Homo sapiens: one gene and its partner. The protein of the gene in region 1 interacts with the protein of each later gene in a pairwise test. Each region holds a gene or a part of one and is shown on either strand. Other genes may lie near its edges. The genes, in order: CT45A1 and FAM133A.

Evidence for each region.
Region 2: the proteins of CT45A1 (region 1) and FAM133A interact in binary tests that used the Homo sapiens proteins (3 or more experiments, as listed by UniProt).

Annotation. Positions count from the first base shown.
Region 1 is NC_000023.11:135,719,972-135,723,803, reverse strand, and holds the end of CT45A1 (cancer/testis antigen family 45 member A1), read right to left. Parts: intron 2,777-3,832; coding exon 2,528-2,776; intron 2,147-2,527; coding exon 2,053-2,146; intron 829-2,052; coding exon 771-828; 3' UTR 576-770; downstream 1-575.
Region 2 is NC_000023.11:93,676,910-93,680,741, forward strand, and holds part of FAM133A (protein FAM133A), read left to right. Parts: intron 1-1,006; exon of another isoform or gene 1,007-1,041; intron 1,042-3,832.

The DNA of each region.
Region 1 (3,832 bases):
ACCCCCTACCAACACACACACACACACACAGGTATAATGTGCATTACATGTATAATGGGAGATTTTAAAGTGTGTGTGTATTTTAATGTGTGTGTGTGTGTAAAATACACACACACACACATTAAAATCTCCCATTAGTTCTGCCTTTTCGTTGAAGGCTGATGATACAGATTTCAACATTGAGATCGGGTTCCCACTACACCAGGGGCTAAGGAAGAGTATGTGTGATATGTCTAGAGAGCTTCTTAGTCCTCCCGTGTTTTTCGATTAGAGTTAATGGAAGATCACAGCAACCCCATCCAGGCAGGACATCTAATGGTTCAGACTCTTCCGTAATGAAGGTTTGAGTCATCCTGCCAGGCCAAGCATCATGACCAACTGACATGCTATCTCAGGGCAAAGGGAATGTGAAATGGGTAGCGAAAGAACGTAGTGATAAATACCAGCTACAACACTGTGAGCTGCTGCAGAAACCACGACTGTAATAGTATTTACCTAATGGGTTAATAATATCTACCAGCACAGGTGGGAATACAAAATAACCAAAACACAAGTTATCCTTTCAAATAAAATGCTTTGGGAAAAAGAACATCTTTTACTAACAGAAATTTCTTAGCCTCTGGAAGGCTATTTGATTCGGTAACATATGCCAGGAGACTTCAGCAATATCCTGCTCCATTGTAGAAAACAGCAATCTGATCCTTTTCTCTCCTCAATCATTAACGAGATTATGCATTTGGGGTGTGATAATCCTCCAGGGACAAGTATTCTCAAATCATACGTTTCAGTTTCTTCTTAAGGTGCTTAACAAAGTCTCGTCTCATACATCTGAAAAGAAAGAGACATGTCATTAACCAAAAGATAGCCAAAGAACCTATGCTGTAGGAAGCGCTGTGACAGATAGAAAGATGAAGTAACAGTCAGCATGGAAATAGAAATGTATCTGCATGGTAAGAGGCAGTCTAGCCGGCATAACAAATGCTGGCAAGGGTGTGGAGAAAAGGGAACCTTCATACACTGTTGGTGAGAATATAAATTACTACAACAACTAACTATGAAGAACAGTTTGGAGGTTCCTCAAACAACTAAAAATGGAGCTATCATATGATCCAGCAATCCCACTGCTGGGTATATACCCAAGAGAAAGGAAGTCAGTGTACCGAACAGATATCTGCACTCCCATGTTTGTTGCAGCACCATCCACAGTAGCCAAGATTTGGAAGCAACCTAAGTGTCCACTAACACATGAATGGGTAAAGAAAATATGGTACATATACACCACAGAGTACTGTTTAGCCATAAAAAAAAGAATGAGATTCAGTCATTTGCAACAACACGGATAGAACCGAAGGTCCTTATGTTAAGTGAAATAAGCCAGGCACAGAAAGACAAACTTCACATGTTCTCACTTATTTTTGGGAGTAAAAGTGTAAAACAACTGAACTAATGGAGATAGAGAGTAGAATGACAGTTACCAGAGGCTACAAAGGTTAGTGGGGGTGGAGGGTGTGGGAAGTGGGGATGATTAATACGTAGAAGTATGGAATAAATAAGATGTCGTATTTCATAGCCAAACAGGGTGACTATAGTCGGTAATAATTTAATTGCACATTTAAAAATAATGAAGAGTATAATTGTATTCTCTGTAACGCAAAGGATAAAAGCTTGAGGTGATAGAAACCCCACTTACCTTGATGTGATTATTACACATTGTTGTCTGTATCACAATATCTCATATAGCCCAGAAATATATGCATCTGCTATGTGCCTACACAAATTTTTTAAAAAGAGGTAGTCTAGCAAATACAAAGAGTGTCAATTGAGGGACAATGCGCACCTCAGACTATGGTGAAAATGGAAGTCTCCATAGTCTTCGAAGAATGAGTTACACTCAGATAACATTAGCCTAAGTAACTGTGGAGACAGCCGTAACTGTGAGTGAGGACCAGGGTTTGAGAAACGCAAGGCAGGGGCTGTTCCCCAACGCTCACCCCCAGTGCTCTATTGAGCCCAAGTGCTTAAAGAAATTGGACAGTTCCTATTTCTACCCACCTTGCTGCTTCCTTGATGATGGATTCAAAAAATCGCTTCCTGACTGCAGTAGGTCCTTGCACTCCTTCAAGCATTTCGAAGATTTTTTCATATTCTGAAGATGTTGAAAAAAAAAAAACTTCAGTATTATCAAATATAAAGAAGAATAGAAGTGAATCTACACCTCAGCAATCATGCTTCAGAGGCTGAAATGTTTTAAATGCTTAAATCAAGATACCTGCACATACAAAACCTAAATAATAAAAAAGACACCTGCACATACATACGAATGTAACTCCTTTAACCATAACCAAGTAAGAAAAGAAAAAGAAAAAATGTACATGCTTTAGTCAAAGAAAAGAGGAACCACCATAAATTATGTGCAATCTCAACTCTGGCAAAGAATGAAACTCAACAGGCAACATGAATATCTTCTGAATCATAGAAAGAGAGACTTCCTATAGTTTTATAAAACAGACATTCTTATATTACTTACTTTGTCCAACGCATCGGAGTTCCTTCACTAATTTACGTTTTATATCAGCATTAATTTCTCGTTGGCTTTTGGGAGAGGAGGCTGTTTCTCTGCATTCTAGGTCATCTCCAGAGAAACTGCTGGTAACGTTTCCTCCCACAGGTGCATTGCTACCAGGTTTCTGCATCATCCTATCTTTGCTGAAACCAGTGAAGTCATCAATCTGAGAATCCAATTGGCTGGGTGGAATAGCATGTCCTGTCATAAGCTCTGGTGAAACAGATTTTGAGTAAAAGCCATCAGTTGGTGTTTGACCACTTTCTTTCCCCTCCACATAGACCTCATGAATGACAGCTCTGGAAATCAAACTGAGAAGCTGAGCTGTGAGATATGTGTGTTTCATCACCCCTCTGGGTACATCTATGTGCTCCTCAGTTTCTAGGGAATTATTTATTTCATAAATGGGAGGATACACCAGGGAGAAATCCCAGGCCTGACAAACGGAGGCCAGGACACATAATACAATAAAACCACCTCTTATTTTCTGGCCCTATGAATAGACATGGAAACCAAGTAAGGCAGTACAACTCTAAAGCAACATTCACAGATCCCTGGTACTCATGGGACAGTTTCAGCTTGTTATGCTTTACAAGTTGAAAGCAGCAAGTCTCACTTGATATCATGATTTCTCAAATTCACTTACAAACTGCCATGTTTTACTAAGCTGGAAGCCAGACAACTTGGACACACCTCAACCAGCCTCCTCTCTACATCAAACATATTCTGAGAAAATAGAGGTGGCCATTACTGCTGAAAGTTCTACATGTACTCCATCAACAAAAAATCCCTTTTAGTGTATGATTTTCCTCATCCTTCCTTTCTGTCTCACAAAAGTGACTTTCTTTTCACTCCAGGTCTGACACCTCTCATTTATTCATCGTCTGTGGCAGGCAGCGTGCCGGTAGCTGGGGATCAGCAGTAAACAGCCCAGAGAGCAACGTTCCCTGCCCTTCTGGAGCTCACATCCTCATGGGGCGGTCAGACAGTACGTGCACAATGAGCAAATGAAACATACAGTGTTGGGCTAGTGGTAAGGAAGCAGTCCACAGGCCTGTGGGCAACAGCAGCAGAGGGAGCCCCAGGAGCTGCTGCTGGTTGGGCAGAGCCTTCTGTGGAGGTACCCTTGGGCAGGGCTTGAAGGAGAAAGCAGAGCTGCCTGCGCAGAGGCAGAGGGGGAGTTCCAGGTTGCGGTGAGGCCAAGGATATGGGCTGGAGTGGGGATGGACCGGGCACTACGGGGTGAAGGACAGTAGCAGAGAGAGTCAG
Region 2 (3,832 bases), about 42 Mb from region 1:
CACTTATTTTTGTAGCCTTTTTTTTTTTTTTGGTCAATTAGTTTCTTTAATTTTATGTAGTAGGTATCTAAAAGAAAATAAGCTTTTTCTTCATAATCAATTTAATTGATGCATTATATCCTATTTGTTCTACTGTGAAATATAAGTATTAGTTTTATCATATCATATGCTTGTTTTTCTTAATAAGGTTAGATATAAATTATTTGCATAGTGATATGTTTTTTTGTTCAATTAACATGATTTTTTGGCGGGGGGGCTAAATGTTCATGCTTCTACATGAGATGATACATAACACAGAATCTGATAGTATACTCAGACTGAACATAGTACATTAACATCTGTTGATACCTCCCTTAATATGAACATACACACAATCCCTTCCACCACCCACTCCTACCACACAAACACGCAAGGTATATAATGACAAGTGTAGCAGCATTATCTTTTTTTGTAGGTATCTAAGAAGCAAAGCATTGCAAGTTCATTTATTTTTGAATGACTTCCTCCTGTTCTTCTTGGACAAGTTGTATCTGAATACACAAGTGAATTCTTTTTTAAAAACCATTTTATTGATGGATAATAGGCACACAATAAATGTGTGTATCTGTGAAAGTATCACCACAGACAAAATAATGAAAATTGTGTCATCCCTGAAAGTTTCCTCATATGCCTTTGAATCCCTCCTCTTGTCCCTAGATATTCACTGATCTGTTTTCTGTTCCTATAGATGAATTTGCATTTTCTAAAATTTTATATAAGTGGAATAATGTAGTATGTTCCTCTTTTTGCCTGTCTTTGCAGACTTATTTTGAAATTTACCCATGTTGTTGTGTGTATCAGGAGTTTATTTTTCCTGTTTACTGCTGAGTAATTATTCATTACCTGGCAATACTACAATTTGTTGATGGGCATTTTTGTTGTTTTGAGTTCTGGGCTACTACAAATAAGGCTGCTATGATCATTGGTATATAAGTTTTGTATGGACATATGTTTTAATTTCTTTTAGAAAAATACATAGGAGTGGAATGACTGGATCACATGGTAGGTGTATGTTTCACTTTTTAAGAAATTACCTGTTTTCCAAAGTGGTTGTTTTGCATTTCCACCAATAGTGCTCACATTTGATATGGGCAGTGTTTTAAAAGTTAGCCATTCTAATAAGTATTCAGTAGTATTTCATTGTGATCTTAATTTATATTTCTTTGATGACTAATGATGTTGAATACCTTTTCATGTGCTGATTTGCCATCCACATATCTTTTTTGGTGAAGTGACCATTTGTATTTTGTCCATTTAAAAAAATAGGATTGTTGTTTTATCATTAAGTTTTGATAGTTCTTTATATACTCTGGATGCAAGTTCTTTATCAGTTATAGCTTCTGCAAATATTTTCTCTCAGACTGCATATTTTCTTTGCATTCTCTTAAGGGTGCCTTTTACTGTTTTTAAAGAGGAAATGTTAGTAATTTTTATATTGATACATCATATTTTGGGGGCACATGTGATTTCAATACATGAATACAATGTGTAATGGTCAAATCAGGGTAATTGGGATAAGAAGTTTGCAATTTCGATGAAGTCCAGTTTATCTTGTTTTTCTTCTATGGAGCATACTTTGTGTGTCATCTCTTAGAAATCTTTGCTTAACCCAAAGTCACAATTATTTTCTTCCATTTTTTTTAAGTTTTATACTTTTAGGTTTTGCATTTAGGTCTGATACATTTTTGCAAAAAGTACAAGGTATGGATTGAAGGTTTATTTCTTTTGATATAGATATGCAGTTGTTCCAGCACTATTTGTTGAATAGACTGTCTTTTCACCACTGATTTGCCTTTGCACATTTGTCAAAATTAGCTGTCCTTGTATGTGTGGGTCTATGTTGGAAGCTCTAATCTGTTCCTTTGTGTACTGATTTTAATGACACAATCGGTAGTTATCCATTTGTTAGATGCATTTGGGAAAGAATGAGAACAAAATTGTGTGATAACAGAATTTCATTACAATGGAGACAGTCACAGGAGCTGGATCTTCATCCTTGACCTTTCACTTCTGCTCCCAACTATGTGAGATAAAGGGTCAGATAACAGCAGTAAAAACCTAGAAAAGAAATAACAAAAAGAAACATAAATGTTCTTCTATTTTGTGGAGTTGCCAGTGTGTAGATGTCCATAGCCCAGCCACAAGAATGGTAGTTAGCATTATTCAGGAGCACAAATAATGCCCTTGTTTTTCTCACTCCTGATAAAGAGAGACCTGCTTGCAAAAATGGAAATATTGAATAGAAAGTATCTTTAAGCTGTTAATAAATTATAGTTAAAAAAAGAATAGTAATAAAACATTGGTTGTTATGATGTTACTATTATTAATAGTAATAAATAAAACATTGGTTGTTTTATAACATTTCAAACCATAGCAGTGGTTTTCAAACAAAAATATTTCATTTTATACTTATTCCTATAATACAGATATACTCAAATTAACAGAATATGGTATGTTGTTATAGATTTTTATTTTTTAAGGAAACATTTCTGAATTGCGTTTCTAGCAATATACCCTTAACTGCATGGAGTTTAAAAGGGAAGTTTAATGCAACATAAGATAAGGAAAATTGTTTCCCAATTTGGATATTTAACATAGCGCTATTTTTTAAAGAAATTTTAATTGTCATGTAAAAATTACATATATTTTGCCATATAACATGAAGTTTTGGTATATGTATACATTGTTGAATGACTAAATCAAGCATTTTAACATATATATTACCGTAAATACTTATTTTTTTCTGGTGAGAACACTCAAAATCTCTCTTACCTCATTCCTGTCTAACTGAAATGTGTCTTTTTTTTTTTTTTTTTTTTGAGACGGAGTCTCGCTTTGTTGCCCAGGCTGGAGTGCAGTTTGTGATCTCGGCTCACTGCAACCTCCACCTCTCAGGTTCAAGTGATTCTCCTGCCTCAGTCTCCCGTGTAGCTGGGGCTTCAGGTGTGTACCACCACTCCTGGCAAATTTTTTTTTTTTTTTTTTTTTTTTTTTTTTTTTTTTTTTTTTTAGTAGAGACAGGGTTTCACCATATTAGCCAGGATGGTCTCCATCTCCTGATCTCGTGATCCGCCCACATTGGTCTCCCAAATTGCTGGGATTACAGGCATGAGCCACTGCACCAGGCCGTGTTGTTTCTTTTGACAGTATCTCCTCAAACCCCCAACTCCCAATTGTCTAGTAACCACCCATTTTACTCTTTGTTTCTATGAATGTGACATTTTTATGCTCCACATGTGAGATCACATGGTATTTGTCTGTTCCTGGCTTATTTCACTTAGCATATTGTTCTCCAGATTTGTCTATGTTTCCACAAATGACAAGATTTCCCTTTTTAAAGTCTGATCAATACTTTACTGTGTATACATACCATATTTTCTTTATCCATTCATCAACTGATGGACACTTAGGTTTATTCCATATCTTGGCTATTGTACCTAATGCTGCAATGAAAATGGGAGTACAGATATCTCTTCAATGTATTCATTTCATATCCTTTGGATATATCCTCAGTACTGGGATTACTAGATCATATGGTAGTTCCATTCTTACAGTAGTTTTGAGGAATGTCCATACTGTTTTCCATAATGGCTATACTAATCCACATTACCAGCAACAGTTTACAAGGGTTAACTTTTCTCCATATCCTCACCAACACTTACCTTTCGTCTTTTTGATAATAGCTGTCCTAACAGGCATGAGATGATATCTCATTATGTTTTTAATTTGCATTTACCTGATGATTAGTGATGTCAAGTATTTTTTCATATACCTATTGGCGATTTGTATGCCT